2 separate regions of the Homo sapiens genome follow, and region 1 is linked to region 2. Evidence: fine-mapped expression QTL. A gene starts in region 2. The other region holds a variant in brackets. All regions are shown on one strand. Distances are from middle to middle.

Region 1 (4,369 bases), 280 kb after region 2:
CACATGGTAGGGCACTCTGGGGCTGGCTCCTTGGATGGCGGGGCCCTGGTTGGGCAACGATGCTCAGAGCCCCTGAGCCAGAAGGCAGCCTGCAGCACCCCAGCATTTCTGGCATACTGTGGTCACCACCCCAGCCCACCAGCAGGGGCCCAGGGTGATCATGCTCAGCACCACCGCTGCCAAGGTGGTCCTGTAGGACCTGCATAGGGGAGCTTCCCTAGAGCTCTGGTCACAGCCCCAGCACCCTCTCCCTGGTACCCCCACCTGACCTGACTCCTGGGGACCCCAGCAAATAAGCAGTCACCACTATCCACCTGCCCTGCCATGGCTTGCCACCGCCTCCAGGTTGCCACTCCAGAGCCTTGCTCCTGTCCCTGGTCCAGCATGGCCTCAGCTCCTGCTGTCCCCACCTGTGCCCCTGGGACTCCTTGCCCTCCCTGTCAGCACCCGGCTTTCCCCTGACTGGGGTCTATGCCCCGCTGTCCCTGCCTGTCACGCCTTTCCTCTGTCACCTCCTCCCTTGGCAAACTCAACCCAAGTGCCACCTCCAAGAAGCCTTCCTTGCCACCCTCACCCCCATGGCTGGGCCAGAACCTGCTCTGGGACCTCTGCAGCTGGCAAGTGTCTCTTTGTCCTGACTCTGCTCACCTTGTGTCATCCCTGTCCTGGCCAGTGGCTTGCTGAGGGAGGGGTCTGTGGCTGGTAGAGATGATGGCAAGAAGTGCCATGGGCTGGACGTCTGTCTGGGGCTTGCCAAGACCAAAGTGGGCCTGGGCTATCTCATCCTGCCCAGAAGAGAGGGGCTGCCTCAGTTTCCCCAAACCTTGAGTTCTTGCTCCTCCTTCAGCCCCCAGCCCCTGACCCCTCCCAGTGCCACACCCCTCCTGTGTGATTATCTAATCCTGGGGCAGCCAGGTGCCAGGCTGCTGCGGGAAAACGCTGAGACACCCCAACCCCTCCCGGCCCTTGCCCTAATGACAGCTCTGCACCTGCCCACACAAAGCCTTCCCAGATTCGAGTGGGAACGTGGTGCCCCTGAGCCCTCTGGAGCCAGCACAGCGCTGACTCCTGATCTCCCTGGGTGCTCAGGCCTGGGGATGGGGGACAGGGAGCCGCCTCTTCACTGGTCCTAGGTTCAGTCTCTGCCAACACAGAGCTGCCCCAGGCCTCGGGAGGAGGTAGAGTCTTCAAGGAGAGTCTTCCGGAAACATGGCCCTCGAGGACTCGGAGGCTGTCGGACAGTCCTGCAGAGTCCAGGGGGGTGGGGGGTGGGCAGGAATGTGGCCTCTCCCTCCCGATGGCCCTGCCCTGAGGCCCAGCTGGGGAGGATGTTCCTTGGAGCAGACCCCCCCCACCCCATGTCCCCTTGCCGCATACACAGGCATGAGGCCCAGGCTGCCCCTGGGGACAGCAAGTGACCGAACCCTGCAGAAAGCCAGGAGATGCTGCAGCCACGTGGCCAGCCCTCCCTGGCTGTCATTCTGTCCAAAACAATGCGAAGGAAACGCAGCCAAGCCCTGAGGCTCTCCAGTGTCATGACGTCTGGTGCATTTTGGGGAAATACCAAACATCACGCCCTCTTAAAAGCGCGGCTTCCTTGGCGTGCACAAGGGCCAGGCTCTCAGGCAGCTGGGTAGAGTCTGGCCCCCACATACTCTCGCCCCCCACCCCGACCCCGCCTGCCCAGGGCTTGGGCCGGACCCCCAGACCCCAGGGCGGGGTCAGGTGCAGGGACGGGGTCAGATCATAGAGGGCCCAGACTGCGGGACCCGCCGTATCCTAGGGGTTCAGATCTCCGGGCAGGGTCAGGTGCAAGGGGCAGGGCCAGATCCCAGGGGGTTCAGTTCGTCGGGGGAGGTAGAGGCGGGGCCAGATCCAAGGGGGGGTCAGACCGCGGGGCAGGGTCGGGGGGCAGGTGCTAGGGTGGCTCCCCGGTGCGCTCCTGGGATTGGTCCCGGGCGCTGGCTCCTCTTTAGTCCCCAGCGGGGCGGGCACGGCCCCCTGAGGCCGCAGCTGAGCCTCCCACTCCCGGCCTGCGGTCCCGAGTCCCGGCCGCACCTGCCGAGGCCCAGGCCGCGAAGGAGGGAAGGCCGAGCCGGGCATTAGCCCCCGCGCCGGGCGCCGCGGGGAGGGTCTTATCAGCGCGGGCAGCTGGCGGCCTGTCCCTGCGCGAGCGCCCCGGCCCAATTCAATGGCCATTGTCCGCCGGTCCCTTTGTTCTGAGGTGTCCGCTTCCTGCCAGGCTAGGAGCGGGCGGGCAGGAAACCCTCCGAGCCGAGGCCCAGACGAGGAGGCCGGCCCAGCCTGGGGTCAGAGGCGACGGCAGACCTGGCTCGGGGCTCCCGGGGGCTGGGGAGTGAGGCTGGGGCTCGGTGTGC[G/A]GTCTGCAGGGCGGGGGCAGGAGCGGGATGTCCCCTCCAGGGGGACACTGTGAGGGCGGGGCTCCCGCCTCCAGATCCTGCGGCGCTGGGGGCGGGTGGAGGAAGGAGGAGGAAGACCCTGAGACAGAGGGTGCCCCTCCCAGCTCTGCAGCCTTCCTCTGCTCCCTGCTGGATGACAGGCTCAGAGAGAGCGAGGGCAGGCTCAAGTTTCAGGGTCGTGAAAACCCAGCGCCCACGGCCTCCCATGCGGAAGACGCCCACCCAGGACCGTGGGCTGGGAAGAGGGGCTGAGGCCTGGGAGGGGAGTGATGCGGCCAGGGTTCATCCCTCCTTCACGGGGGCCCTGCGGCGCTCCTGACCATCTGAGGCCGTCTCCACCCCCTCGTCCTCTCTCCCCTGTGCTCCACGCTGCCCATTCACCAGGCCCCACAGGTTCGCCCAGCACAGCACCCTGGTTGGCTGGCCATCGGTTGTAAGCTCACCCGTAGCTGGGGCTGGGTCTCTGGGAGCTGGTGGGAGGGGGAGTTGGCACCAGTGCCACAGCCCACCGGTGCCCACCAGAGCTCCCCATGGCACTCGAGGCCACTGAACCAGCTGGAGCAGGATGGCCACAGCCGCTGCTCACTTCCCACCATGTGCCCTGGGGTCTCCTGCAGTTCCTTTTTCCGAGACCCCCTGGGTGCCTTCCCAGCAAAGCCCTGGCCCTGACTCAGGCCAACTCAATCAGCAAACGGAAGCCACCGCGGGGATTTCAAACAGCAGAACTTAATGCGAACAGCTTGGAGGGGATGCAGGAACGTAGAGAGGAGAGTCTGGCAAGCCGGAAATCAATTTCCTGCTGCAAGAGGCAGCCGGCAGGTGGGGTTGGGGGGGGTGCTAGCCAGGTCCCACTGCTGCCGTGTCCCCACAGATTGGGCCAGTGGTTCACCCCCTCTTGCTGACGTCCCTGCCGTCATCACCACTGCCTCTTTCTGTCCCCATGTCCGCCACCACCATCATCACCTGAAGTTGCCACTGACGGACAAACATGGCCTGTCCCTCCTCCTTCTGGACTTCCTTGGACAGAGCTTCCAGGGAAGTCAGCAAGAGAGTGTGGGAGATGCGGAGGCAGCCTTCCCTGGTGGAGAGGAGGCCCCCCACCCTCCAGCTCACGGGCACGGTGGGCCCCAGGTGGGGAGGAGGCCCCCCACCCTCCAGCTCATGAGTACAGCGGGCCCCGGGTGGAGAGGAGGCCCCCCACCCTCCAGCTCCCAGGCACAGTGGGCCCCAGGTGGAGAGGAGGTCCCCCACCCTCCAGCTTACAGGCACAGTGGGCCCCAGGTGCAGAGGAGGTCCCCCACCCTCCAGCTCACAGGCACAGTGGGCCCCAGGTGGACAGGAGGTCCCCCACCCTCCAGCTCACGGGCACGGTGGGCCTGGGGGCCACGTGCACATGGCTTTCAGCATTCCCACCTACAGCTCCTCCCGGGAACTCGATGAGAGCAAGCCAATGGCCATCCCAGCCCAGCTGCTTGTCCCTTGGACAAGTCTTCCCTGCCTCTGAGGCTCCTGGGGGAGTTCACACAGGTGAAAGGAGGTGCCAGATCTTAGTGGGCACTCTACAAGCAGCAGCACGTGTTTATGAAGGGCCTGGCACGAACCGGGGCACTCTGGGGAGCCATGCCATGCTGCCTATGAACCAGAGAAGTGGGGAGGCAGCCCTTGGCATAAGGAGCCAGAGGGCACACAGCCCAGGAAATGGAACAGGGCCCTGAATCTGAGTCTCCTGTGTGAGCTCAGGTCCTCTGAGAAGAGGACACCAGGATCCCATGCAGGTGCGATTCAGCTGGGGAAATGCAGGTGAAGGATAGAGAGGGGAGGAGGCACAGCAGCAGGGAGAGCCTGACTGACGCAGGGGTGCTGGGAAGGATGGAGGTAAGAGAGCTGGGTGGTGGGTGGGAGGAGCCTCAGAGCTGGGGCTGCCTGGGCACGATGCCAGTGTGATGCGGGGC
Region 2 (4,369 bases):
GGACAAGCTGCAGGCCCTGGGGGGAGGGAGCATGCAGGCTGGGCCCACCCTGCCCGGCAGAATCTGGCCAAGCCCCTCAGGTGGCCGAGGACCAGTGGCTCTCCCAGCTCCCTTTCTCAGCAAGTGGCCCAGCCCCCTTTGTCTGGCAGATATCGGGGAGGGGCATCTGGCTAGGGCGAAGCCCACTCTGAGAGGCCCAAGGGTGCTGCTCCTGGCAGTGAGATGGGATCCCCCAGGTGGCCTACTAGGTAGAGGGCTGTGAATACTGGCTCTCCGTGGCCCTGGTACAACCCTCTGGGCATGGCCAGGGCCAGCCTCCAGGACACCAGCCCAACCACAAGGCTGCACCAGCTTAGAGCCCTCTGACCAGAACCACTCCACTCAAGGAAGCTGGGACACACCAGGGCAGGCAGGGGCTGGCTGCACGGTGGGCAGGCGTGTCCCAGCAGCAGCAAGGAAGTCTCGGTGGCTATCGGCCGTGGCAGCTGCAGCCCAGGGCTGCCAGCACTGTGCTCTGGCCAGCTCTGGGACGTGGGCCAAGTGGGGGCAGGGAACTGGCCCTCAGACCCACTGGGTGGGTCAATGGCCACACATTACGGGTCCGAGTTGGGAACACAGAATCGATTGGGTCTAATGGCTCAGAAGAAAACCAGCTGCCCACCCTGGCTGCATGGGCTCTGGGGTGGCCTCCTCAATGTGCTCCGACATCCCAGCCTGGGTTCTACTCAGGTATGAGCTGCGGGGGCAGCCTGGTGTGAGGGTGGGCAGGATTCTGGACCCTCGCCCTCACAGTGCCTCCCAGGCAGGACAGAAGCCAGCCGGGTCTGAAGCGCCTTTGTTTTCCGCTGAGAGGCTGGGCGGGCCAGGCAGGCAGGCCTTTCCGGGCTGTCCACAGGACTGTTGGCCGAGACCCTGGAGAGCCCCAGGCTGGCCTGGCCCGGCCTGGGGTAAAGTCATGGGCAGTTGGACTGCAGAAGGGCCCTGGGGACCGTCTCCCACCCTAAGCCTTACAGAGACAGCCCTCGCTGGGACAGAGACTGAGGGCTGAGCGGGCTCCAGGAGAGGCAGCCGGAAGCCCCTCGGCTCCCAGCCACGCCAGAAGCACTCCAGGCCAAATCCGGTCCCTCCCCTCTGGGACGGGCAAAATACAACCTCCCCTCAACCCCCTCCAGCCTGTGAGCCGGGGAAGCCCAGTGGCGGCCTTCCCTGCAGCCTGGCCGCATTCTGGGTATGGGGCGACCAGGGCAGGCGCCCTGTTGGTCCCGGCCCTCCTCTCTGCTTCACTAAGTCTGCCCCCCTTCGTGCAGCAGCTGGTGGGTAGGTGGGCAGGGACCTTACCACCCTGGAGAAAGCTGGGCAGCGAATCAGCCAGGAGGAAGGGGGTAGGAAGGGCGCACCCAGGCCCAGAGAGTGAGTAAGCCCAGACGGGGGGAGCGCGCCTGCCGGAGGGGCTAGACCGAGGGCCGCCTTGCGAGACATCCCTCTTCCCGCCACCACCTGCATCCTGTCCAGGGCTGTTCTGACCTTGAGGAGGCAGGGATCCTGGACACCTGGGCTGCTTGAGCACAAGGTCCCTCTCACGTTCGCGGGAACTCGCGTGTCACACCCGCCCCCACCCTACCCCCGTGTGAAACTCCTGGGGGAACTGGCGCCAAGGGAATGCGTCGGGACAAGCAGGAGGCAGAGGCCAAGGTCGCCCCCGCTTGGACTGAATCCCGACAGAGTCCAAACCTGGCCCAGCCCAGCTCAGCGGAGCCCGGAGTGGGAGCTGGGGGTCACTGTTCCCGGCCACTTGTTCCCGGGGGAAGCGGGTGTAGGGGGTCCAGGAGAAAGGGCCCAGGCCCACGGGAGCGCGCGGGACGCACCCGGGGCGTACAGCCACGCCCTGCCCCGCCCCGCCCGGCGCCGTCCGAGGAACCGGGATGCGTCCGCGGATCCCCGAGCGCTCCCCCAAACACTGGCCTCATCCCGGGGCACCACAAGCCCCGCCCGGGTGGTCCCTGCCCCGCCCCCACAAGCCGCTTCGGGGTTCGGGCGTGACCGCCCCCGCTTTCGCGCAGCCCCACCCTTTGGCTTTAGCCGCTTGGGCAGCGCGGCCAGCCAGCCTCCGGGACGCGCATCCTCGGTCCGGGGCCGGGGCCGGGCGCACCCCGAGTTACGCCGCGGCTCTGCGGCGCGGGACTGGCCGCGAAGGGCGGCGGGATGCACCGAGCGGGCCGGGAGCGGGCACGCACTCACCGAAGTACACGGTCTTGTCGCACTTGGGGCATTTGGAGGCCATGGTCGGTGCGCCCGGTCGGCCCGCGCCCTCCGCCCGTTCTCCTCCGGGCCGCCGCCGCCCGCGCCCAGCCCCGCCTGCCCGGCTGTCCGCGCGCCCATTGGCTCCGCGGCCGGGGCGGGGCCTCGATAACCCGTCCCCCGGGCTGGGGGCCGCCTGGGGGCGCCGCGGGGGCGGGGCGCACCTGCCGGGGGTGGCGGGTGCGGGGCAGCCGGGCCAGGCCTGGCGCCCCCGGGCCCCTCGCGCCGGAGGTGGCGTCTACAGGGGCCCGCCCGGGCGACCGCGGCGCCGCCCGCGCCCCGGCTGTTTCCATGGCGACGTCGGGGCCGCCTGGCCGGGCCGTCCCCGGGGCGGCGGGCAGGGTGCGGGGAGCCTGGCCCTCGGCTCTCGGGGAGCCCTAGTGACTTGGGCCTAGGGGTCCAACACTCCCGGCCCTGGGCGCCCAGGCTGCGCTCCGCCGCGGGAAGGGGTCGCAGGCTCCGGGAGAACCCCACCCCCACCCCGCCGCGCGCGGCGCCTGTCCCGCTTCCCTTTGTTGCTCGGTTTCCATAGCAACAGCCGCGCCGCGGGAGCGGAGTCAGATTCCCGGCGGGCACGGCCCCCAGCCCTGTCCGGGTCTCCATGTCCCGCTCCGCCCCCGCCCGCGCCCCGCCCCAACACTGTCTGTGGTGCTGAAGGCTCCTTGGGTGGAGGGCAGGGCTCAGGAAGGAAGGCGCCGCCACCTCCAGAAACAGCTCGAGAAGCTGCTGGTAGGGGGTGTGGGGAGGTCTGCGTCTGCCTCCCAGGCAGGGAAGGGGCGGCGGGCACCAGCGCCGAGGGATCCGCGCTTAAGGCGTCCACCCCAAGCACTTCCACCCAGGGGGCGGCCGGGGAGGCGGTGAGGAGTTAGGAAGGGAAGGAGGGGAAGGAGTGGGCGTGCCCTCTGTGCCCCGGGCTGGGGCTGACACTCCAGTCCCTTCTCCCGCACCGCCCAGGACCAGCTGCGTGCCTGGGGGCCCAGGGCCTGACCTCGAGGGGTCAGGCGGGAGATTGAGGGGTCATGCCAGTCACCGCACCCCCACACCCCCACTCTGGCCTCCTCCCAACCAGGGCGTGCCTGACCACGCCTCACCACAGTGCCTCCGCCCTAGAGCCCCGTAGAGCCTGGCCCCAGGTGGGGAACCTCCGCACCCACGGGCTTCCTGGTGCTCTGTCCCCATGGGCCCTTCTCTGAGCCTTCTGGCCCCAGCTGAGCGTCGGCCTGGGAGACAGGCAGATCCCAGAAGCCCAGTGATCAGGCCCTATGGGGGCAGCTGACTCTGGACACCCTTCCCCCTGTGTCTTGGAGGCTGTGGGCTGGACACGGAGACCTACCTGTTCCCTCTGCCTGGTGCACCAGGCATGTTTGTGAGCCAACCAGAGGCCCTCGGTGCTCCTGGCTTTCATGGTGGTCCTGGCTGGGCTCTCTGTGGCAGCACCCTCCTCCCTTGCACACACACCCTGCAGCCACTGCCATTTCCATGGTGACAGCAGGCCAGAAACATGCCCCCCGCCCCCCCGCCCGACTGACCAGCCTGACCAGCTCCCCCTCTGCACTTGGGACCTGTGCCAGCCAAGGCAGAAGATGGTGAGGAGGCATCAGTCAGTACCTTTTCTGGGCAGCCCTTCCTCCCTGGCAGGCCCAGGGGTCCCTAGGGGTCCCTCACAGCAGGGCCTTGCCCAGGCTGGATTCATGGGCCCACTGCCAAACCCTCTCCAGCTCCCTGCCCTGTTCTGCCCAGCTTGGGAGCCTGGGGCTAAGCCATTACCCTCCCTGACTTTGCTACCTGTGGGGCTTGCTACCTGTGGGGCTTGCTCTGGAGGACAGGGCTGGCTGAACACAGGGCTCTTCTGGAGGGAGACCACCTGCCCCAAGGTCCCCAGCCCTGCCAGAAGAGTGGATGGGGGTAGAGGCAGGCCCCTCCCAGGGTGGCAGCAAAGGAATGGCATTCGGCACTGGCCAGGTGCCCTGGAGACACACGGAGGGTGGGGTGGGACAAGGAGTGTGCCAGCTGCTGCACTGCCCTCACCCCAGCCGCAGTCCCTGGGCAGCGGCCAGAAGCTCCCTAATGC

Which allele goes with the higher level. Positions count from the first base shown, and alleles are read on the strand shown. Sizes are in standard deviations (SD) of each study's normalised expression.
For the expression in left ventricle of the gene that starts at base 2,323 in region 2, allele G in region 1 goes with a lower level than allele A (moderate effect, 0.72 SD a copy in GTEx).

Evidence for each region. PIP is the estimated chance that this variant, and not a neighbour inherited with it, causes the effect.
Region 1: its variant is the best candidate, but not a certain one, in a credible set for the expression of CRIP2 in left ventricle (GTEx, PIP 0.55).

What each region holds. Positions count from the first base shown.
Region 1 is chr14:105,194,544-105,198,912 of GRCh38, reverse strand. No RefSeq gene overlaps it. Among named protein-coding and RNA genes, the nearest start is that of NUDT14, 15 kb to the right of the region's middle. RefSeq lists enhancers at 1,470-2,251, 2,252-3,033. The variant G/A (reference allele first, on the strand shown) is at 2,379.
Region 2 is chr14:105,472,775-105,477,143 of GRCh38, reverse strand. CRIP2 (cysteine rich protein 2) reads right to left here and starts at 2,323. Exons shown (of 8, transcript NM_001312.4): 1 at 2,239-2,323. The coding sequence starts at 2,281. RefSeq lists silencers at 2,301-2,410, 2,591-2,660, 2,931-3,080, 3,171-3,260, 3,271-3,320 and an enhancer at 3,349-3,881.